Regions from separate parts of the Homo sapiens genome. Here all the other regions are linked to region 3. The links come from fine-mapping of genetic effects on gene expression. A gene starts in region 3. Each other region holds a variant in brackets. All regions are shown on one strand. Distances are from middle to middle. Region 1 holds the start of PAK2 (p21 (RAC1) activated kinase 2). Region 2 has its middle 24 kb from the start of CEP19. Region 3 holds the start of CEP19 (centrosomal protein 19).

Region 1 (8,182 bases), 24 kb after region 3:
TTAAAGTATAAACTTTCCCAGTGTTTTTCATTGAACTTTATCTTCAAAACCAAATAGAAAATAGAAACTGAGTTGAATGTAGGAGCTTTTCCATTGCTAGTCATAGTAAAGGCCACATCCAGCTGTACAATATGGGAATAACAAGGCTTTAAAAGCTATCTGGGGAGAGAAAGGCAAATGGGAATGAAAGAATAATTTAGTTTTTTGTTGTTTTAATGTTTTTCCTCTAAGTCTTCAATTTAGAGAGAATTCTGTATTCTAATTTGAAACATGGTAAGAGGAAGTAAATGTTTATATTGATTACAGAGGTGACACTGGGATATAGCTTTTCTTAAAATAATATACTTTATGTAAAAAGCAGAAAAATCAGAACTAATGAGATTTAACAAATTATTGTGGGAATTGAGTCTGATTCTGTAACATTAAATGAAATGTTAGATTCAAAAGTCATTCAAACCAATAATATTACATGTAGTGTAGCACTGGCTGAAATATATTTAAAAGAAAAAGGAAATAAAAATATCCAATTAAAAATCAAAGAAATAGTGGTCTCACCTTATGACATTTATTTTATTTTACTATTTTTATTTATTTATTTATTTATTTGAGACAGAGTCTTCCTCTGTCTCCCAGGCTGGAGTACAGTGGCACGATCTCAGCTCACTGCAAACCTCCGCCTCCCGGGTTCAAGTGATTGTTCTGTCTTAGCCTCCCTAGTAGCTGGGACTACAGGCACCTGCCACCACACCTGGCTAATTTTTGTATTTTTAGTAGAGATGGTTTAGTAGAGATGTTGGCCAGGCTGGTTTTGAACTCCTGACCTCAAGCGATCTGCCCGCCTTGGCCTCCCGAAGTGCTGGGATTACAGGCATGAGCTACCACACCGGGCCCATGACATGCATTTTCAATGTCTAACTTCTCTCTCTCTCTCCATAGGTATATAAGAATGTGATTCTACAAGTTCCAGTGGGACTGACTGTACATACCTCTCTAGTATGTTCTGTGACTCTGCTCATTACAATCCTGTGCTCTACATTGATCCTTGTAGCAGTTTTCAAATATGGCCATTTTTCCCTATAAGTTTTATGTAGTTAAATGCTTCCTAGAAACCTAAATAAGATCTATTAATTTCTGACGAGAGGTGTTCTTCTAGAATTAATTACTTTTATCTTTTGTCTTCATTTGTGGCCAAAATTATGTTTACTAGAGGAAATTTGGGATCATTCTCAGCTAATTCCAAAATGTAGTGCTCTATTGCATGGATCCTTGGTAATCCTCAAGCATCAGATGCCATAAGGGGAAACTTAATTCTGCTAAATTAATGTTTATTTTGTGAGAAGTGACTTTATCTTCATTTGGGGTAGAAAAATTATTTCTTTATGTAGTAGAGACAAATTATTCTCATTTTGCAAGTACTTTCAATTTAAGCTACAAATTGAGAAAACCGTTATAAATAAGAATAAAATAGGCCAGGCACAGTGGCTCACACCTGTAATCCCAGCACTTTGGGAGGCCGAGGTGGGCGGATCACCAGAGGTCAAGAGTTTGAGACCAGCTTGGTGAAACCCTGTCTCTACTAAAAATACAAAAGTTAGCTGGGGCTGGTGGTGGGCATCTGTAGTCCCAGCTAATTGGAAGGGTGAGGCGGGAGGATCGCTTGAACCTGGGAGGCGGAGGTTCCAGAGAGCCAAGATCGCACCACTGCACTACAGCCTGGGCGACAGAACGAGACCCTGTCTCCAAAGGAAAAACAAAAAAGAAGAATAAAATAATTTGGATGAAAATCATGTTTATTTAAATAGTAATGTCATGAGACTATTAAAGATGTGCCAGAGTTTCAATGAAAATCATTAAAGTAGGACAGCTAAGAAATTAATATTAATATCAAAATTATTGATAATCTTAAATTATTGATTATTCCTTAACGCACTCCATTCTCCTTTTACATTTTATCATGTTTCTTTTGAATATATGAATTGGCAAAGGACTTGATGAAACTGAGTACTAAGATTTGGTACAGAGTATGTCAGGAAGACAACTCAGATTGCCATTTTAAATAAAGTTGTACATGAACAATAATTGGAATCATCAGGTAATTTTTTTAAACAAAGGTTCTTCATTTACTGTTATGATTGGAAAAAAATTAGAAAATAAAGTAAGTGCCATAGGCTAATTAAAAAATAAAACCTTGGCCGGGCGCGGTGGCTTACGCCTATAATCCCAGCACTTTGGGAGGCCGAGACGGGCAGATCACGAGGTCAGGAGATTGAGACCATCCTGGCTAACACGGTGAAACCCCATCTCTACTAAAAATACAAAAAAATGAGCCGGGTATGGTGGTGCATACCTGTAGTCCCAGCTACTCGGGAGGCTGAGGCAGGAGAATGGCATGAACCCGGAAGGCAGAGCTTGCAGTGAGCCGAGATCACGCCACTGCACTCCAGCCTGGGCGACAGAGTGAGACTCTGTCTCAAAAAAAAAAAAAAAAAAAAAAAAAAAAAAGTAAATAAAACCTTAGGGCAAGCATGTTCCAAAACAGAAGACATCAAACCAGGGTGTGTTGGCATTATTTATTTTATGTAGAGTATTGAGATGTGATAAACCTTTGTATATGCCATCACTGCTCCATTTCCTAAAGTATTTTGGTGTTTTCATGGGACTACATCTTGTATAATTTGACATGTATGACCTGACTAGTCCTAACAGTTCTTTTTAAACGTGTATTTGAGACTTAAATATTGGAAAAGGTAACCCAGTGCCATAAAGCAGAAACAGTGACCTTTAAAATGACTAAAATTTCAACCCAGTATAGTTTCATACCTATTTCATGCTTTCTCGTAAGAAAGAATTTCATGTTTTAGAAACATTTCTTTCACTATGGGATTAATAATATGACACTGAAATGGAATTATATATGTCAGCTACAATTCAGGCATTGTTTTGGGATATGGTTAGATTGACAGGCAACGTTTTGGAATATGGTTAGACGGGGAGGGAACACGGTACTGTTTAACATCTTAAGAGTATGTGGGGGTATGTGTATACAGAATGTTTTTGTTTTTGCTCATCACAACCAGGTTTCATCAGTATTTAAAATATTTAAGATTGTGGCTTGGAATGTGGTTCAGCCATTTACTCACTTATACAAATATTCAGAAGTGTAATAAAAATGTGAATGAAGAAAACTTTGATATAACTCTTCTTGCTTAGATAAATGGTTGCAGATGACATCACTTTTAGTATAACAGAACATTTCTGGTTTTGTTTGTATTATCTTGTAAACATGGCCAACATGGTGAAACCCCATCTCTACTAAAAATACAAAAAATTAGCCGGGAGTGGTGGCATGCGGCTGTAATCCCAGCTACTCGGGAGGCCGAGGCAGGAGAATCACTTGAACCCGGGAGGCAGAGGTTGCAGTGAGCCGAGATCGTACCACTGCACCCCAGCCTGGGCGACAGAGTGAGACTCCGTCACAAAAAAAAAAAAAAAAGGGAAAGAAAAAGAAAGAAATATACCTTTTAAGGAGTTCCTTTAGTGTGTCTCTGTTGGTAGCTTGTTTATGTTTGATGATATATTTATTTCATCCTCACTCATCTGATGGATAATTTAGGTAGTTGTACA[CT/C]TTTTTTTTTTTTTTTTTTTTTGAGACAGAGTCTTGCTCTGTCGTCCAGGCTGGAGTGCAGTGGTGTGATCCCTGCTCACTGCAACCTCTGCTTCCTGGGTTCAAGTGATTCTCCTGCCTCAGCCTACCAAGTAGCTGGGACTACAGGCGCACACCACCACACCCTGCTATTTTTTATATTTTTAGCAGAGACAGGGTTTTGCCGTTGTTGGCCAGGCTGGTCTTGAACTCCTGATCTCAGGTGATCTGCCCACCTCAGCCTCCTAAAGTGCTGGGATTACAGGTGTGAGCCACTGTGCCCAGCCGGTAGCTGTACACTTCTAAGCTTGGTTATTTTCTCTTGGTACTTTGAAAATATACCATTATTGACTGGCACCCGTTTTGCTGTTGTGAAATCTGCTATGAATGTAATAGTTGTTTGTACAGAATGTCTTTTCTCTCTGGTTGCTTTATCTCTGGTATTCTGCGGTTTCATTTTCATGTGTTTGAAATTTCTTTACTTATCCTGCTTGGTATTCAGTTTGCTTCCTGAATCTGAAGATTCCTGTCTTTAATCAATTCTGGAAATTTTTCAGCCATTATCTCATCATTATCTGCCTCTCTTGGTTTTTCTCTTTTCTCTCCTGGAATTCTCATTAGGAGTATGGTAGAGACCTTAACAATCTATCCCCATGTCTCTTAAGCTTGCTTTCATTTTTCCTGTCTCTAGGCTGTTCTCAGTAATTTCTTTTGGTCTGTCTTCCAGTTTACTAATTTTCTCTTCAATTGTGTGTAATCTGCTATTTAACCAAACATTGGCTTTGGTTTCAGTTATTCTTTGTTTCTAGAAATTCTACTTAATTCTTTTGTTGTTGTTGTTTTTGTTTTGAGACGGAGTTTTGCTCTTGTTGCCCAGGCTGGAGTGCAATGGCATGTTCTTGGCTTACTGCAACCTCCACCTCCCAGGTTCAAGTGATTCTCCTGCCTCAGCCTCCTGAGTAGGTGGGACTACAGGTGCCCACCACCACGCCTGGCTAATTTTTGCATTTTTAGTAGAGACTGGGGTTTCACCATGTTGGCCAGGCTGGTCTCGAACTCCTGACCTCGGGTGATCTGCCCACCTCGGCCTCCCAAACTGCTGGGATTACAGGTGTGAGCCACCGCGCCTGGCCTACTTATTTCATTTTCAAAGCTGTTTGGTCGTTAAAAAAAAAAAGCATCTTGTTTCTTGCTCGTGTTTTCTAGCTCCTGTCTTACTTTCTTTAATCATTTAAATAGGCGTACTGTATATTCTGTAGCCATCAATTCCAGCAGCTAAAGTCTGTGTGGGTTTCATTATGTTCTTTGTAGTTTCTATTGACTCACTCATCGCTGCTTATTTCCTCAGGTGTATTGTATTTCGGGTGCTCATGTTTGGCTTCGGAAATCCTGTTTATCTGTGAAATCCTTTGAGACCGAGGTTGAGGGTACACCTGTGCAGTCAGGATTTGTATTTGTTTCTTCCAGGCCCCCCAGAACTCCAGCCTGGGACCACTTTCTTGACAAATTTGAACTTTAAAACCTTAGTGAGGGAAAATTCTAAAGGGTTATTAATTCTAAAGGGAAAATTTTCTTCTGCCCTGCAAGCCCACTGCAGGCCAAAGTAAACAAATGTCCTGTGTGTCTCCCTGGGCTAGCATAGGGTTTTTTTTCCCCCCAGTCTGTTCTTGGAGGGTATAGCGCCTTGAATTTCCAGTCCTATGCAGGATCACAGTCCTGACTTCTTGTATAGGCCCAAGTCCTTGTCTTTAGTTTCCTGTGCACCTATTAAAACTCTAGAGATTTCTGAGATAAGTAGGTGCCCTCAACACAACCATGGCTTCACTGCCCTGCTTACCACTCTGGTGTCCTGCCCCTTCTTCAGGTTGAGTGTGAAATTTGGAAGACTGTCAGAAACATTCTATTTTCATTCTTGCAAGTTATGCCTTTGAAAGGATGTCTTATTTATCCAGTGTTTCTGTGTGTTTAATAATCAGAGCATTTTTCAGGTTATCTCTTACTGTGCCATGTTGCTCCTTGATTCCTTTCTCTCCTGTACCCACTGCATCAATTGAGTTTTTTGCTCTACATTGATAGAGAAGCACAATTCCTCTTTCTTTCCACTGCCTTCCTACTTTATTTCCCTTCTATTCTTGCATCTCTATACTCCATTATCCACATTGCAGTCTAGTGATCTTAAAGTGTAAGCCAGGTAACATCGCTTTCCTGCTTAAAAAAGCCTTTTAATGGTTTTTTGTAATATAGACTTTTTACCATGGCATTCAGGATCTTTCATGACCTGAATCTTGTCTGCTGTAGTGTTTTCTTAATAGTACCGCCTTCTTGTTCTAGGCCCCAGCTACACAGGCCTTCTTAACTGACCGTAGCAAGCCCTTTTCTTTCTTCTCCTGCCTGTATTGCTTTTCTCTGGGTGCTTCTTATTGCTGTCTCTTTCTGTTCTTGCCTTAAGTGTCACCTCCTTAACGAGGCCTTCTCCGACCACCCTATCCAAAGTAACCTCGCCAAGTTTTTTCTTATACCAGGTGTGACTACTTTAATTACTGCGTCCTCATATAAGCTCCACAAAGGCTTGGTGAATCGTGTTCACCCTTGCATTTCTTTTGTGTTTTTTGTTTTGTTTTTGAGGCATGACGACTCTGTCACGCTGAAGTGCAGTGGCCCGATCTTGGCTCACTGCAGCCTCCTCCTCCTGGGTTCAAGCGATTCTCCTGCCTTAGTCTCCCGAGTAGCTGGGACTACAGATGCGTGCCACCATGCCCAGCTAATTTTTGTATTTTTAGTAGAAACGGGGTTTCATCGTGTTGGCCAGGCTGGTCTCGAACTCCCGACCTCAGGTGATCCGCCTGCCTCAGCCTCCCAAAGTGCTGGGATTACAGGCGTGAGCCACCGCACCTGAACCACCCTTGTATTTCTGATGCTTAACAGTGTCTAGTCCATATCAGACACTCAAATATTTGTAGAATAAGTGAAACATTGATGAACTCCTCCGTGGATAAAATAGGGAAGTCTTAATTTGCAAGGAGGTGATACTTAATTTAGCAGCAAAATTTTAGTTAAGAATTTGTAAGCAAAAAAGCAAAATGGATAACGGATGAATTCCCAGAAACAAATGTCGCGGAGCAGATGTGTATAACAGCAATCGTCTGTCAGCGTCTTCCGTCGGCAGAGACCTGCTTGGAGACAATGCTGAATTAAATGAGGGACTGGCTGCTCCTCTCAATACAAAGACTACCCAAGGAATAAAAGCAACGTCTATCACCGAACTACTACTCCCAGCGGCCCCCGCGCGGGCCTGCCCATGGGAGGTGGCGCTCGTCTCCGCCCCGGGGAGCTCCGGCTTCGGGGCGGGAGGGGTTCTGGGTTCTGGCCCCGCCCCGCCCCGCTCCCCGCCGTCTTCCTCCCCCAGGGTTGTGGCCACGCGCAGCGGCGGCGGTTGTTCCGCTTCCCCTCCGGCCCGGGCCGTCGCCATTGCCGAAGGCTCCCTCCCCTCCCCTCCCTGGCGTGCGCAGGACTCCGCCGCCGCTGGGCCTAGCGGTAGCAGCGGCTGCTCCAGCGCGGCGTCTCTTCCCGCCCCGCTTCCCCTTCCCTCCCCTCCCCTCCCCGCACCGCGCGCTAGCCCGGGGCGGCTCCGCAGCCCGCCGGGAGCTCTGACCGAGGCGCCTCGCTGGGGCGGGGACCTTGCCTTGCCCGGGGTAAGTGCACACAGGCCGGCCGGCGCGGGACGCAGGCCGGGTCTCTTCCTCCTCCTTCCTTCTCCGTGGCCTGGCGGGCGGGAGCGGCCCGGGACGGCCGACCTGCCCCGCGCGGGGCCGGGGAGCCGCCACCTGCGTGCTGGGAGCCGCAGCTCCTGGGGCGGTGGCTCATTGTCTGCTCCCCAGGGCCGTTTTCTTCGCTGGCTTTAGCCAGAAATGGGAAGCTCGCTGGGCTGCGGAGGTCTGACTCTTCCTGGACCCAGCCCTGCTCTGAACCTCGCGGCACCACGGTCTCTGCCGACTCTCGGTCTTCCCTCCCCTCGCGTTTCACCCTCTTCCTTTGCTCCGTTTTCTTAATGCTGGACCAGACTCTCCGGTTTTGTTCCTTGATTTTTCCTCTCACTGATTCTCAGCCCCTGCTTGCTCGCTCTCTGTTCACCCGTTTCACTGCTCAGGAATATTGTCGCGAGTAGCTTGACTGTTTTCTCAGCTCCAGCCTGTAACCTCTTTTCCACATTCCACATTGGTAAAAACGTAGAGCGTCCCGGGCGCTTGAGGGCCACCGCTTACGAACTGATCTTTCGGAGCTTCTCCTCGCTCCTGTTTGAGCTTCAGCCTAGGGGTGAAATTTGCTTCTTTAGATAACTTAGGTGAAGTTAAGATTGGTTTTTCACCATGTTTGGCTCTCTTGGAAACACACGCACGCACAAACACAAAACGTTGCCACTCAACCTTTTAACTAATTCTTTAAAGATAAGTCATCCAAGAACAGAAGCGTGTCATCGTCAGTGGGTGTGAGGTTGTACCCATCCTTGTATCTTAATTTTAGTAGTACTCTCCCTGGGCA
Region 2 (8,182 bases), 25 kb before region 3:
GCCACCGCGCCTGGCCAAGGTTTTCTTAATGGAGGGACATAAAGTCGATATTAGTCGAAAGGGGCAAGTCCCCCTCTTTTACAATGGACACAGAGCTGAAAAGACTATGAGTGACAAAAACTGGTGATAAGTGAAACACAAAACAGGAAAATAGAAGGAGTTACAGTAACATTGTTTGAAGTGTTTTGTTTTTGTTTGAGACGGAGTCTTGCTCTGTCACCCAGGCTGGAGTGCAGTGGTGCGATCTCGGCTCACTGCAACCTCCATCTCCCGGGTTCAAGCGATTCTCCTGCCTCAGCCTCCTGAGTGGCTGGGATTACAGGTGTTCACCACAATGCCCGTATTTTTGTATTTTTAGTAGAGATGGGGTTTCACCACGGTGGCCAGGTTGGTCTCGAACTCCTGACCTCAGGTGATCCGCCTGCCTCGGCCTTCCAAAGTGTTGTGATCACAGGCGTGAGCCACCGCGCCTGGCCTGTTTGAAGTTTTCTTAATGTATTGCATTTAATCAAAGAGGATTGTAAAATGTTTTTAAACTCAGGTGAGCTCTGAAAGTGCCTAGTCCTTGTATTTACCCAAACCAGTGTTTAACTCCTGCCACTGCCACTCACAAAATGCTGGATTGCCTACCACTTACTTCACTCTGCTCCTTGGTTTCTTAATCTGTATAATAGGATCAGAAATTCTTCTGTGAGGAAATTCGGAAAGGAAAACCCAAACGTAGCAGAGACAATGGACATTGGCACCCTTCTGCCCCCTGGTGGTAATTTTTAGAACCATGTGGGCAGTGGCGAGGCTAAAAATAAAATGTGCAAAGTGTAAAACAAAAACCACGCAGTGTCTTCCTTGTCATGCACAGCCGCGTTCGAATCGCTCATTGTCTTGCCTCCTCAGTGCTTTCTCCCGCCCACGACTATCAGTGGTCCAACCACACATTGCAGGAAGTTCCAGGAGTCATCCACTTACCCTAGAGCAAGCTTGTCCCACCTGCTGCCCGCGGGCTGCATGTGGCCCAGGTGGCTTTGAATGCAGCCCAACACAAATTGATAAGCTTTTTTTTGTGACTTTTTTTTTTTTTAGTTCATCAGCTATCATTAGTGTTAGTGTATTTTTTAATGTATGGCCCAAGACAATTCTTCTTTTAATGTGGGGAGAAAAAAGATTGGACACCCCTACCCTAGAGGAATGATAGTGTTTAGTATTTGTTTTCATTCTTATTTTCCTTCTCCTCTATATCGCATGGATTGTGGAGCGTGTCCATGTCTTCAGGTCATCAGCATGACTTTTAGGGGAGGTGACTACAGAGTCAAAGCCATGGGAGATGCGGAATTCAGCTGAAGATCACTTAAACATCCAGCACCGCTGTAGCACTAGTCATAGAAAGAATATGAAGAGAATTCAAGATTAAACAGATTGGCCAGGCGCGGTGGCTCAGGCCTGTAATCCCAGCACTTTGGGAGGCCGAGGCAGGCGGATCACCTGAGGTCAGGAGTTAGAAACCAGCCTGGCCAACATGGTGAAACCCATCTCTATTAAAAGTACAAAAAATTTAGCCGGGTGTGGTGGCACATGCCTGTAATCCCAGCTACTCGGGAGGCTGAGGCAGGAGAATCGCTTGAACCCGGGAGGCAGAGGTTGCAGTGAGCCGAGATTGTGCCACTGCACTCCAGCCTGGACGACAGATCAAGACTCTGTCTGGAAAAAAAAAAAAAAAAGATTGAGCAAAGCAGTCAATAGATTAATTGGATTTAATTAAGTGATGAAAGAATTGAGTAATGGAACTTCACCCATTCTAACCATGTGATAAAGTAGAAAAGGTTCAAAGATTTAGTAGGGGTTTAAAATGAGTTTAAGAGAATGGGATTACAATTCCAATCCCATTGGTAAGACAAATTTTATTTCTAAAAATTCATGTATTTCCCCCCTTTATACAACTGCAAATGCGAGTTTGGAGCTAGAGTGGGAGAGGAAAGCAAAGAATGAAGGGAAAGAAATAGGAGGAAGATTCTAGAAATGGGGGCAGCATGGGAGAAGTGGTGGGAGCAAAGTCCTGGCATATAGATGCCACAATCAAAACTTCTGCCCTGTTTCCTAGCTGCTTGGTGTCAGCACTGGGGCCATTCCCCCAGCCTGTGACCTTGGCATCCCCTATGTTGACCTGGGCTCTTCCTCTGTCCTTCCACCTGGATGTCCTTTAGTGGGTCCTGGCCAGGGTCCTATTGCTCCCTTTAACCTCTGGAGCTTTTGTCTGCTACATTTTCTTACACTGATGCTGACTCAGACCTAATGCTGGGTGAAGTTGTGATGTGGCTGAAGTGTCTGGGTGTAATTCAAGAATCCTCGAGGGAGAATCAGGAGTTTTGGGTTCCGGTTCCAACTTGGTAATTTACCAAGTCACAGCCTCCTGGAGCCTGGTTTTCCCTATCAATAAAATGAAGAAATCTGTCTTCTCTAGTTCATAAGTTGTCAAGATCAAATGTGTAAATACATAGGAAGTTCTTAGGAAAGGGAAGGCTTCTATCACTGTAAAGAAGTATCATTGATAACTAGTATATGATAGTCTGCTGCCGTCTGCCTTCCCCATATGTACCCTATCATGCTCTGAGTCCCTCCTTCCTGCCTTTTCCCCATCTCTTATCACAACCTGCTTTTTGTATGTGATTGCTATTTACACCTTGATAATATTAAATCAGAGATATACACAATTAAATTTGAGATAGTTACGCCTTGTCCAGAAATATTCACATATTAAGCTTGATCGCTATTTGGGTGGTAAAAAGTTAGTCCTTGTTCAAGAAATGTTAACCAACAGTTTGGGGTAGGAGGGAGAAGTGAGGCTTTCCTTGTGTTCTGAAATCACTATATTTCATGCCTGAATTAGCCTGTCTGAGCTGGAATTCAGAGTGAATCTTTGGATCCATGTTTTAAAGGGACAACTATAGAGACTCCCATTGCTTTTTCTATGCACATAGTTTTTGTGCGGTTTTTACTGGAATCTTATTACAGTTACAGTTACCATCCCATGGACCAACATGGTCCATCGAGGGCCTTGCAGTGAGAGGGTCAGTCCATAGATGCTGGAGCCACATGACGTGGGTTCAAATTTCAACTCTCCCACTTATTAGTGTGTGACCTTGGACAGGCTGCTTCACTGCTCCGGCCCTCAGTTTTCTAATTTGCAAAATGGGGGAGATTAATAATACCTATCTCCAGAGGTTTGTTGGGAGGATTAAATAATAGGCCTAAAACACCTAGAGCAGTGTCTGGCACTGAGTACACATTAGCTGGAATTTATTTCAATTGCATGTTTGAAAAAATTTAAACCATTCAGAAATTTAATTTTAAAAATAAAAAATGAAAAGTCACTTAAGCTCTCTATCTCCCACTTTAACCCCACTCCTCTTTCCACAGGCAAACTGTTAACAGTCACTTTGCACACATCATTCAAGAGTTTTGTTTTGTTTTTGTTTTTGTTTTGAGACTGAGTTTTGCTCTTGTTGCCCAGGCTGGAGTGCAATGGTGTGATCTCGGCTCACTGCAACCTCTGCCTCCCAGGCTCAAGCGATTCTCCTGCCTCAGCCTCCCGAGTAGCTGGGATTAAAGGCATGCGCCACCACGCCCGGCTAAATTTTGTATTTTTAGTAGAGATGGGGTTTCTACATGTTGGTTAGGCTGGTCTCAAACTCCTGCCCTCAGGTGATCCGCCCGCCTCGGCCTCCCAAAGTCCTGGGATCACAGGTGTGAGCCACTGCACCTGGCCTCATTCAAGAGTTTTTACTGATATATTTTTTAAATCAAAGAATTATAATATACTATTTGGCAACTTGTTTTCCTCACTTAACCATGTAGCTAGGAGTTATTTCCAGGTCACTATGCCCAGTGCTACCTTCTTCTGCCTAAGGGTTTCATAGTATGCCGCAGCATGGACACTGCGCAATTCACTTAACCAATGTCTTATTGATGGATATTTGGAGTGTTTCCAGTTTTCGATATTTGGAGTGTTTCCAGTTTTCCACGATCATATTCGCTTTTTGCACATTCTTTTCTCTTTATAATTCAGAACCATCAAGCTGAAGCCCAGCAGGGCTTCCTCATTTCATCATCATAGCTCATTTCCTATTGAGCAAAGCTTCTTCCTCGGGTCAGCTCTTGCCACACTTCTTTCTACAGAAACAA[G/C]AAGTGGAGTTATCTGTCCTGGGCTTCGGGAGTGAACACACCCATTCCCACGCTGCTGCTGCCCACGCTGCTTTGCCCACACAGCACCACTGTCCCTGGGGATCCTGAATAACAATCTGCTGAGCAAAATCAACATCCCTTTGGCTACAGCGAGGCTAATTGCACTTAATAGGTTGTAAGAGTTCTGGTACAGACAGGCTCCTTCCCATGATGTATTTCACCACCTCATTGAAGAGATGTGTGTTCCAGTGAGAGTCTGTTCCTCCGTGTCATCCCAACAAATGCTCCTATGTCCAGGAGCCATTGTCAGGAATGCTCGTTCCTCTCCCTTCTACACAGACAAATCTCCCTTTGAGGACACACTCAACTCCAACTCCTTTTGTGAAGCTTTCCCTGTTGCTCCAGCCTGCATGAATCCTTCCCTCCGCCGAATTTCTTCAGCAAGAATGCCTTCTAGGCCAGGCACGGTGGCTCATGCCTGTAATCCCAGCACTTTGGGAGGCCGAGGCGGGCAGATCACCTGAGGTCGGGAGTTCGAGACCAGCCTGACCAACATGGAGAAACCCTGTCTCTACTAAAATACAAAATTAGCTGGGTGTGGTGGTGTGTGCCTATAATCCTAGCTACTCAGGAGGCTGAGGCAGGAGAATCACTTGAACCCGGGAGGCGGAGGCGGAGGTTGTGGTGAGCTGAGATGGCGCCACTGCACTCCAGCCTGGGCAACAAGAGCGAAACTCCATCTGAAAAAAAAAAAAAAAAAAAAAAAAAGAATGCCTTCTAAGTGCATAGCACCTGTGTGAGGGTGAAACCCTGGCCCACAGAGCCAGTGGTCGTAGGATAGTTAAAATAGAAGGCCACAGTATATTGGGAGGCCAAGGCGGGCGGATCACGAGGTCAGGAGATCGAGACCATCCTGGCTAACATGGTGAAACCCCGTCTCTACTAAAAATACAAGAAATTAGCCGGGCGTGGTGGCGGGCGCCTGTAGTCCCAGCTACTCGGGAGGCTGAGGCAGGAGAATGGCGTGAACCTGGGAGGCGGGGCTTGCAGTGAGCAGAGATCGTGCCACTGCACTCCAGCCTGGGCGACAGAGCAAGACTCCGTCTCAAAAAAAAAAAAAAAAAGGCCATAGTATATCAGAATTCCATAGAAATAAGATTATTACAAAAAGCCTATAAGCAGAGAGACACTGGAATATACTGAAGCTAGTATGAGCAAAAGGGAATTGTGGGTTGGAACACCAATACCCACAGCAACAGTGAAGGAAAGCAAAAGCCTCGCACAGCGCTTCTCAAAGTGTGGTCTGGGGGCTTGTTAGAAATGCAATTTCTTGGCCAGGCGCAGTGGCTCACACCTGTAATCCCAGCACTTTGGGAGGCCAAGGCAGGCGGATCACCTGAGGTCAGGAGTTCAAGACCAGCCTGGCCAACACGGCAAAACCCTGTCCCTACTAAAAATATAAAAATTAGCCAGGCGTGGTGGCACACGTCTGTAATCCCAGCTACTCAGGAGGCTGAGACAGGATAATTGCTTAAACCTGGGAGGTGGGAGTTGCAGTGAGCTGAGATTGCGCCACTGCACTCCAGGCTGGGTGACAAGAGCGAGACTCTATCTCAAACAAATTAAAAAAAGAAAAAGGAAAATAAATGCAAATTCTTAGGCTCCACCCCAGACTTACTGAATCAGAAATTCTGGGGGTGGAACGCAGCAATCTGCGCTATCGTGAGTCCCACAGATGAGTCTGGTGCATGCTGAAGTCTAAGAACCACTAGCTTGAGTAGAGATTCAAAGTTTGGGTCTCTAGCACAGAAAGACTTTTGCAACAACGAGTCTCGGGAGGCGTAAAGCAAGCAGAGAGGACTGCAGCTGTTAAAAGTAGTCCTAAGAAGATTCTAGGTAGGAGAACTCAAGCGTGGGGAGCTGGGAAACCCCAGCTGGCAGGGAGGGGTCCTACCTGGCGAGCTGCCCCCCAAGGGCCTGCGCTGGTCAAGTGTCTCCCGAAGGGTCTGCCTGCGGGCAGGAGAAACACAGGTGTCCAGGACTAGTGTTCTGACTGATACGTGGCCCTAGGATTTCTCTCCTGGGACCACTTGGAGAGGCAACCCTTGGCTGCCAGAGGAAGAGACTGATGGAGGCAGCAGGACGGGAGGAAGGCCTGTGGGAGGAGGGTGCCAGAGTGGGAAGGGAGCATGTGAGGAGAGTCTTGATGGTTAATGCCAATTACCTCTAGAAAATTACCAGGCTTTACAGACTCAAGAGCTACTACCCAAAAGATTGAAAAAACTGCCTTAAAAAAAAAAAAAGCAACCCACCCCAGGGAAGAGAGAGAGCTATTTAGAAAACTCCAGAAGTAAATAAGCTCAGACAAATCTGAGATTTATCTGGTCTCTGCTCCTGAGTCCTGTCTGAGAATCAGGCACCTAAGAGACGGGGTGTTGTGTCCACCAGAGACGGTGGAGAGGCCGGGCACGGTGGCTCACACCTGTAATCCCAGCACTTCGGGAGGCCGAGGTGGGCAGATCACCTGAGGTCAGGAGTTCAAGACCAGCCTGGCCAAGGTGGTGAGACTCTGTCTCTTCTAAAAATACAAAAATTAGCCAGACTTGGTGGCGCACACCTGTAATCCCAGCTACTCGGGAGGCTGAGGCAGGAGAATCGCTTGAACCCGGGAGGCAGAGGATGCAGTAAGCCAAGATCACGCCATTGCACTCCAGCCTGGGTGACAGAGCGAGACTCCATCTCAAAAAAGAAAAGAGATAGCGAAGAAAGCCATCATCTCTGGTGGTTTGCAGGTTTGATTTTCATAGCAGAACCCTTAATGAAGATCTCAAGTAGAACTCTGAAATGGGAAAAACTTCAACATGTAAGAATTGAGCTGCTGTGGATAAATTAGGAGTCCAGTTCCCACCTCCTTATTCTTTTTATCACTCAGAACAATGACCACTTTTACACCCGACCCCAACCCTAGCTCCCCAGGATGCTGCTCCACAGAAGGCAGCTTGAAAAACGCCAATGGTTAACCTCTCTGGTGCCTTGCTGGGCTGCTGTAGGGACAGCGGGGTCACTGCTTCACAAAGTCACCCTTCCCGTTGCTGGCGGTTTTGATCTTCAGAGAGTTCTGTCTTTTCTTTTTTCTTCTTCTTCTTTTTTTTTTTTTTTCTGAGGCGGAGTTTTATGCTTTTCCCCCAGGCTAGAGTGTGCAATGGCGTGATCTGGGCTTGCTGCAACCTCTGTCTCCTGGGTTCAAGTGATTCTCCTGCCTCAGCCTCCCGAGTAACTGGAATTACAGGTGCACACAACCACGCCCAGCTAATTTTTGGATTTTTAGTAGAGACGGGGTTTCACCATGTTGGCCAGGCTAGTCTCGAACTCCTGACCTCAAGTGATCCACCCTCCTTGGCCTCCCAAAGTGCTGAGATTACAGGCGTGAGCCACCGCGCCTGGCCAGAAAGTTCTGTCTTTTCTTGAGGTGAGAGCTGCTCCCTAAATTTCCAATCACTGTGCCTAGTTTTTCCCTCTAGAAGTAGTAATATATTCTTCTACGTGAAAGATCTGTAAAGAACTAAAGAGCTTTAAGAGCAATCTTTTAACTTTTGCCTTTTCCAGGCAAAAATCTCATCACTTCTTGCAAAGGATTCTCATGTGACATGGTCACTCTCTGTGGGACACACTCCAGTTTGTCAACATCTTTTAAAATGAGGCTCCTGGAAGAAAACATGGCTCCAGACAGGATCTGATCAGGACCTTTCCCCCATCTGAGCACTAACCCTCAATTAATGTAGCGTAGGCTTACATTAGCTTTCTGGGCAGCCAGTCCACAGAGTGTTCATACTGCGACTGCTGCCAATTGGATGCCCTCTGTCTGTTTCACGTTGTTTTTAGGTTAACTGTTTCCTGTCCTGTGCTCTTGCAGTTGGCATTTCTTAATGCAAGTCATGGACTTTACTTGTGTCTCCATAATATCTTGTCCTGTAGGTGTTAGTCCAGTCACTCAAAATATTATAAA
Region 3 (8,182 bases):
CGGGAACGACCACAAAGCTCAGTTATTTTGAGAACTGCCCTGAAAGTTCAGCTTGGCCCTGGGTTAGTTTCAACCTGTTGGATCCCTAAGATCTGGTTTTTTCAAGGATATAGACTTGTTCATATGTGAATCTGGGGATGCAATCCAGTTTGAACCTCTTAGTGTACTGCACTCTTACTGAAGATCGAATATGAACCCCTAAGTCAGCCCAATAGCTGACCTATAGGGTCTTTACTATTTATCAATTAAGAAAGGGCATATCGAGCATCCTCGGTATCAAGGTACTATGATAAGGTAAGTTTTTTAACCTTAATCATTTTGTCCTGAGAGGTTCACCAATCCAGAACTGTCTCCTTTGTACTTTCCCAATTATTTTACTAGAGTTTTTTGTCATTATTTATTTAATCATCTATCTTCCCTTCTAGTCAATATGCTCCATGAGGGTGGGGGGCATATTCATTTTCCACCACAATATCTCAGCATAATACCTGGAACGTAGTGGGCATTCCATACATTGTTTAATGCTATGAATTAACATGATGGTCCCTGTACATTTTTGAAAGCATTTACAGTCTAGAAGCCTGATCAAAAAGCAGACCTGCTGCAGAATCAGCTTCTTCATATACACGTCAGTAACGTCTGCAGCTACATCATATACATCACATATCTCAGCTTCTTCATATACAATAGTCAGTAATGTCTGCAGGGCTTTTATTTTGGCCTGTGTGTCTCACTATATGATAATTTTCTAGCTACAAGAAACAGCTATTTGTAGATGAATACTTACTATTCTCTCTTCCTTTCCCCACCCTCAGTGCCCAAAGAATACACTTAACCCTAAGCACTGCTTTTGATGTGACTGTGACATTCCCAGAAAGATTTGTAAATGTCAAGAAACATTGAGGTAAAGTGGCATAGGGTGATGATATCTTCGTGAACTCAGTTCTGCTGGAGAATCACTATTAGGAACATACTTTTTATTAAATACTTAGCAGTGATTATACACGTCATTGTAGAATACTGGGGGCAAAGGAGAGGGGAAACCTATAGAAAATAATCACCCTTGATTGTGTCCAGTCTTTTTTCTAGGCATATAGTTTATAGTATGTTTCATACATACCTTATCATACAAGCTATTTCCTGACGTTCAAATTTAACAACATATATTATTATTTTGTCATCAAATGTTTTACTACAATGTAACATTTTATATGACTGCTAAATGTTTTATTTTATGGATGTACTATAATCATATTATTCACCACTTATTGTTGGGCATGAGAATTTTTACTCTTAGAAAATTAATCACATATAAGCCCAGGCACAGTGGCTCACCCCAGCCAGCACTTTGGGAGGTCAAGGTGGGCAGATCATTTGAGGTCAGGAGTTCGAGACCAGCCTGGCCAACATGGTGAAAACCACGTCTGTACTAAAAATACAAAAATTAGCTGGACATAGTGGCAGGTGCCTGTAATCCCAGCTACTCGAGAGGCCAAGGCAGGAGAATCACTTGAACCTGGGAGGCGGAGGTTGCAGTGAGCTGAGATGGTACCACTGCACTCCAGCATGGGTGACAAGAGCAAGACTCCATCTCAAAAAGATGGAGGCAGGTGTGGTGGCTCAGGCCTGTAATCCCAACACTTTGGGAGGCCAAGGAGAGGAGATACCTTGAGGCCAGGAGTTTGAGACCAGCCTGGGCAACACAGCGAGACCATGCATGTCTCTACAAAAAATTTAAAAATTGGCCAGGCATGGCAGCATGCACCTGTAGTCCCAGCCACACCAAAGGCCAAGGTGGGAGAATCGCCTGAACCCAGGAGTTTGGGGCTGCAGTGAGTTGAGATGGTGCCACTGCACAACAGCCTCTCCAAAGCATGATACGCCTATTCTTAAAAAAAAAAAAAAAAAAAAAAAAAACTACTTTAAAAAATTACTGTGCTCTACCTCTAATCTGATGCAATGAGCTCACACCATTTCTCCTTCTTTTCCTTCTCTTTTCTTGCTTTTTTTTTTTTTTTAACGAATACTATTCCCAATTCACCTAACTAAAATTTGATGTTAGTAAACTACAACCTACGGGGCACATATAAACTCCACACACTGAAGCAATGGCTGTACTCGTCAAAGATGTATGCAGTTGGTACTCAAATAATGTAGTTTTTTTTTTACTAGACTCTTTTTAAAATTTAACTTTAATTTTTGCTAAAGTAATGTTTGTATTTGGAATATAAAATAATTCTATGAGGCTTATAACAACAAACTATCGTCCTTGGCCCTACTCCTCTTCATAGGGAGCCAGACTGAATTTTAAAAGGCATATCTTCCAAAATTTCTCTCTCCATTTCTTAAGAAACATGCTTATACTACCATTTTCAGTTTTTTTTTTTCTTTTGAAACAGAGTCTCCCTCTGTCGCCTAGGCTGCAGTGCAGTGGCGTGATCTCCCCTCGCTGCAACCTCCGCCTCCTGGGTTCAAGCGATTCTCGTGCCTCAGCCTCCCGAGTAGCTGGAATTACAGGTGCCTACCACCATGCCCAGCTAATCTTTGTATTTTCAGTAGAGACGGGGTTTCGCCATCTTGGCCAGGCTGGTCTCGAACTCCTGACCTCAGGTGATTCGCCCAAAGTGCTGGGGCTATAGGCGTGAGCCACCTGCCCGGCTATTTTCAGTTTTGGATAGTATGTTTTGACATACACTCTGTTTCCTCTTTGAGACACCCGCTCTAGAGCCCTCTATTCCACTCCAAGCCGCCTGGATGCTCTCTTGGCCTGCTTACAGATTCCACTCTGTTTAGGAAGAAGGACGGCACGTTTATCCAATTATTCTTCCTGGACACGAATACTCCTCTCCCCAGAGATCAGTAACTGCCCACAATCTTGTTAGGAAGCCCCACAGCACCTAAGGGTACGAATGTCCCCAAAGAGTAGACGATTCTCTCCCTACTCACGTCTCCACTAGTGCAAGGCTGGCTTTCTTACCCTTAGAGGAATACAGAAATGACATCGTCTGCAGGCCAACGTCTAAACAACCAGGAGTGGGTTTTTCCACCCAACCGCAGTGCACGCAAAGCCCCTAAGCCGACTGTGAGACCGGGCGGAGCCTGGCGCTGCAGGAAGAGGCGACAGCCACAGCCCTACTGACGAGCCCGAGGGGTGAACTCCCCGGCGGGAGGCCCGAACCCTCAAACACCGGGAAGCGGAGGTGGGGGCCGGCTGGGGGACCGGTCCACCGGCTCCCACCTCGGCGTACAGGGATTCCAGGTCCCGGCGAGCGCTGGCCTAGCGGTTTCCACAGCGACAGGCCGGGCGCGCGTCCCCGCGCGTGCGCAGCTCCTCGCCCGCCCCCGGGTGGGCGGAGCAAGGAACAGCTGGGCGGGGACGACCGCCCCACGCCGCGCGGGAACCCTTGGGGGCCGGGGCTGCAGGCAGCTGGGAACCGCGGGCGCTAGGCGCGCGCACCCAGCACTCGGTCCCAGCCGATAAATCTGGGGCAGCGCGCGGTAGGAGCTGCGGGCGGCCAGGCCCCTTCCTGCGTCCGCACCTGGCCCCGCGCGCCCCTCTCGGGCGTCCGGCTTCCGGCGTCCTGGCGGCTCGGGTGGCGGCGGTTCGGGCGGCCGCCTGGCTGCTCCTCGGGGCGGCGACCGGGCTCACGCGCGGGCCCGCCGCGGCCTTCACCGCCGCGCGCTCTGACGCCGGTAAGGGGGGCGGGGCTTGGGGGGCCAGAGCGTGGGAGCGGTCCCGGCTCCCGGGCCTCTCGGCGGGTTGCGGGGATGTGGGGACCCGGCGCGGGACCTAGATCAGTAGGGCGAGCCGGAGGAGGTCAGACACTAGAGCCGTGTGCCCTCCTTCCCTCCCGTGCGCTTTGCTCTGCGGCGGATCCCGGGTCTCCGGGAGAGTCGGGCTCGGGCCCTGCGGTTCCCAGGCTGGACTGGCCGCCCTGTTACTAAAGTTCTGAGAAGGAAAGTCAGCCGTCAAGCGTCTTGGGATGCTCTTGAGCTGCACGAAGCTTCTGATCACCAAGGGGCCAGGCAAGGCCTTAGCGCCCTGTGAGGCCTGAGAATCCCCAAACTGAATGTAGGACTCCGTGGCAAACTGCTAGTTGTTCGTGCAAGTAGTAGTTGGCAAACTGCTTGTACTACTGAGACGGGCAAGTGCGGGAATAATTACAATAAAGGGTAAGGTTTGATGGGAGGAAAGCACAAACCCTACAAGTTTCTCCATCTGTAAAATGAGGATGTTTCTGTCATCCTTGGTATCATTTAGATCCGTTTAGTATCTGTCAATCAGTGCAGTTCTGCTTGTGTGTTTACATATTGGGTTTTCAAGTTTATCTAAACAAAGGATTATGAGGCCAAGAAGATTTTTTTTTTGAGATGGAGTCTCACTCTGTTGCCAGGCTGGAGTGCAATGGCGCGATCTCGGCTCACTGCAACCTCCGCCTTTCCCAAGTTCAAGCAATTCTTCTGCTTCAGCCTCCCAAGTAGCTGGGATTATTACAGGTGCCCGCCACCATGCCCAGCTAATTTTTTGTATTTTTAGTAGAGACGGGGTTTCGCCGTATTGGTCAAGCTGGTCTTGAACTCCTGACCTCAGGTGGTCCACCCTCCTCAGCCTCCCAAAGTGCCAGGATTACAGGTGTGAACTACCATGCTCGGCCAGAAGAATTTTTAAACAGTTGGATTTGGTAATCTGTAGAGGCTTCCAACGTTAGCATTTTATAATTGAAAAGGGGTCAAAATTAGCGGGGCGTGATGGCGTGCCCCTGTAGTCCCAGCTACTCAGGGGGCTAAGGCAGGAGAATCGCTTGAACTAGGGAGGCGGAGGTTGCAGTGAGCCGAGATCGCGCCATTGCACTCCAGCCTGGGTGACAGAGGGAGACTCTGTCTCAAAAAAAAAAAAAAAAAGGAAAAAGAAGTCAATTTCCAGAGCCAGTTCACCACTACCAAAGTAATAGTTAAGAGGAAAAATGTTGAAGGTAAATTCACATTCAACAAATTCGTTTTAAAAATGGTACTTTTGCCTTTAAAATCATGACATTCTAGTATTTGCTGTACTATTTGTAAATTAGCCTTTCTCCGGTCCCAATGATCAACTGCTGTCTGGTGTACATACCAGTAGAATTTAAGCCTGTTCATAATTTTTCTTCTAATTTAATTTATAGTTGGATAGCAGTCCTCACTTCCCACCCTACCCCCATTAAAATTAAACAGGATGAAGAAAGATCTGGATTTGTGCTGGGCACAGTGGCTCACACCTGAAATTCTAACACATTGGGAGGCTGAGGTGGAAGGATTGCTTGAGGCCAAGAGTTCAAGACCAGCCTGGAAAACATAGCAAGACCCTGTCTCTGCAAAAAAATTTAAAAGTAGCCAGGTGTGGTGGCGTGGGCCTATAATCCTAGCTACTTGGGAGGCCGATGTGGGAGGATTGCTTGAGCTCAGAAGTTCAAGGCTGCAGTGAGCTGTGATCATGCCACTGCATTCCAGCTTGTGTGACAGAGTAAGGCCCTGTCTCTTTTTTTTTTTTTTTTTTTGAGACGGAGTCTTGCTCTCTTGCCAGGCTAGTGCAGTGGCGCAATCTCGGCTTATTGCAACCTTCACCTCCCAGGTTCAAGCGATTCTCCTGCCTCAGCCTCCCAAGTAGCGGGAACTACAGGTGCACACCACGACGCCCGGCTAATTTTTTGTATTTTAGTAAAGACGGGGTTTCACCATGTTGGCCAGGTTGGTCTTAAACTGTTGACCTTGTGATCTGCCTGCCTCCCCCTCCCAAAGTGCTGGGATTACAGGCATGAGTCACTGCACCCAGGCTATTTGTTCTTTTTTTTAAGAGGCAGAGCCTTGCTCGGCTGGGCGCTGTGGCCCATGCCTGTAATCCCAGCATTTTGGAAGGCCAGGGTGGGCAGATCACCAGGTCAGGAGATCGAGACCAGCCTGGCCAACGTGGTGAAACTCCATCTCTACTAAAAATACAAGAATTAGCCGGGCGTAGTGGCGCGTGCCTGTAGTCCCAGCTACTCTGGAGGCTGAGGCAGGAGAATTGCTTGAACCTGGGAGGCAGAGGTTGCAGTGAGCCAAGATCGTGCAACTGCAGTGCAGCCTGGCAACAGAGTGAGACTCCGTCTCAAAAAATAAATAAATAAATAAATAAAAATAAAAAAAGAACAAATAAAAATCTGGATTGGTACAAGATACATATGGAATTTGGGGATTTGTTTATTCAGGAAAAGATCATATGCTTCTCCAAAGCAAATACAATTTCTTTTTTGAGGGCTGGAGATTTTTCAGTGAAATGTAACTAGACAAATTCTCGAAGAGCTGTAACACTAAAATTTCATTCAATTTTAGTGTTGAAAGTGGAAGTATCTTAGGCTTTAAAAATCAGGCAAACCTTTCTTCTAATCGGTCACGTAGTTAGTTGTATGACCCAGGGCCATTTACTAATGCTTTAGAAGTTCAAGTTTCCTCCTGCAAACAAATGGCAGTGATTTTGCTTATTTTGCTATAGATCGTGAAAGTTAAAACACATATGAAAGCACCAAGTAGAGGATCTAGCATGTTAGATATTATTTAACCAGTTATTTTTTTCTATTCTTTTTTCATTCCTTCAAATAGTTTCACCTTCACATCATTTTTCTTAATGCATCTTTTCAGAAATACATCTAATGGATTCAGCAATATTCAATGATAATAACAGGATTATGTAAATAATATATAGTTTTCTGTATGTGTTTGGGGTTTGTTTGTTTGTTTTGAGACAAGGTCTGGCTTTGTCACCCAGGCTGGAGTGCAGTGGTGCAGTCTCTGCTCACTGCAGCCTCCCTCTGCCTCCTGGCCTCAAGCCATGCTCCCACCTCAGCCTCCTAAGTAGCTAATTTTTGTATTTTTCTTAATGGAGATGGAGTCTTGCTATGTTGTCCAGGCTTGTGTGTGTTTTTTAAATGTTCTTCCCACAGATTTACAGCTTTTGAAATGGGACAAAGTTCCATAGCAAATGCCTGGCAGAGTTGCTGGTCAATAGTAACTGAATTTTCAGTTTTAAGATGCTTACATTGAGTAATAGTTTTCTTTTTTTGTGTTTAGAGACAAGGTCTCTCTCTGTCACCCAGGCTTGAGTGCAGTGGTATAATCATAGCTCACTGAAGCCCCCATCCCCTGGGTTCAAGCAATCCTCCCACCTCAAGTGCGAGCTGGCACACCTGGCTCAGAGTAACAGCTTGAGTGTCTGGAATCTGGATGAAGTCAGTATACTGAGATTTGTGCTTATTCTAAGTTTACAGTGGAACCCGTTGAACCTTTACGTGCCTCCAGCTTTGCTTTTTGTTTTTTTTTTAAACCTTCCAGCATCTCCACAAGGCATAAATGTACCATTTTCCTGGTTTTGTAGGCATGGATGTTAGAATATAGAAGTTGCCAGTATGTATCTATCTGATACACAGTTTCAGTGAACAAGGATTAAAATGGAGATTTCCTGGCTCTTTAGCCATCCTGTTCCTTTTTGGTATCTTGGGATCACCTGAATAAAGTAATATTAATAAAAAACACTTACATAGAACACTTAATATGTATTCTTACTACTGTTCTAAGTGCTTCTACTTACATTAAATTCTTACGACAGCTAGTAGAGAGATAAACTATCTTGCCCAAAGTTAACACAGCTGTTAAGTTACAGACTGGGATTTGAAATCAGGCAATCTAACTCCAGAGTCACTGTTCTTAACCACAGTGCTATATTGGAAGTAGATTTATATATATATTTCAAATTGCTTAAATTTTAAAAGGTTTTGTTTTTAGGTTGGTTAGATTTTCTAGGCAAGTAAAGCCTACTAAAATAACTCTTTTATAATTATTTAAATATTATTTTATTCAGTGCTTTTGTTTTTAAAAAAAAATCGTTTGGTTCTTATAGGCATAAGGGCCATGTGTTCTGAAATTATTTTGAGGCAAGAAGTTTTGAAAGATGGTTTCCACAGGTAAGTTGCCTGTTGATTTCTATTTCTATTAAAATAATGTGTCATATAATTGAGAGCAAAAAATTGATGGTTGAAATTTGTATAAATTGAAAAATCAGGCCAGATGCGGTGGCTCTCATCTGTAATCCCAACACTTTGGGAGGCCGAGGCAGGCGGATCACAAGGTCAGGAGTTTGATACCAGCCTGGCCAACATAGTGAAACGCTGTCTCT

The links.
Region 1: its variant is fine-mapped to the expression of CEP19 in neutrophils (Naranbhai 2015, PIP 0.91).
Region 2: its variant is fine-mapped to the expression of CEP19 in whole blood (TOPMed, PIP above 0.99).

Annotation. Positions count from the first base shown.
Region 1 is chr3:196,732,823-196,741,004 of GRCh38, forward strand. PIGX (phosphatidylinositol glycan anchor biosynthesis class X) reads left to right here. Exons shown (of 6, transcript NM_017861.4): 6 at 937-3,185. The coding sequence ends at 1,080. It overlaps PAK2 (p21 (RAC1) activated kinase 2), which reads left to right and starts at 7,035. Exons shown (of 15, transcript NM_002577.4): 1 at 7,035-7,335. RefSeq lists a silencer at 6,826-7,615. The variant CT/C (reference allele first, on the strand shown) is at 3,625.
Region 2 is chr3:196,684,308-196,692,489 of GRCh38, forward strand. No RefSeq gene overlaps it. Among named protein-coding and RNA genes, the nearest start is that of CEP19, 24 kb to the right of the region's middle. The variant G/C (reference allele first, on the strand shown) is at 4,177.
Region 3 is chr3:196,708,952-196,717,133 of GRCh38, forward strand. It overlaps CEP19 (centrosomal protein 19), which reads right to left and starts at 3,299. Exons shown (of 3, transcript NM_032898.5): 1 at 2,978-3,299. PIGX (phosphatidylinositol glycan anchor biosynthesis class X) reads left to right here and starts at 3,426. Exons shown (of 6, transcript NM_017861.4): 1 at 3,426-3,693; 2 at 7,907-7,970. The coding sequence starts at 3,582. It also overlaps the pseudogene RNU6-646P. RefSeq lists silencers at 3,049-3,361, 3,196-3,825.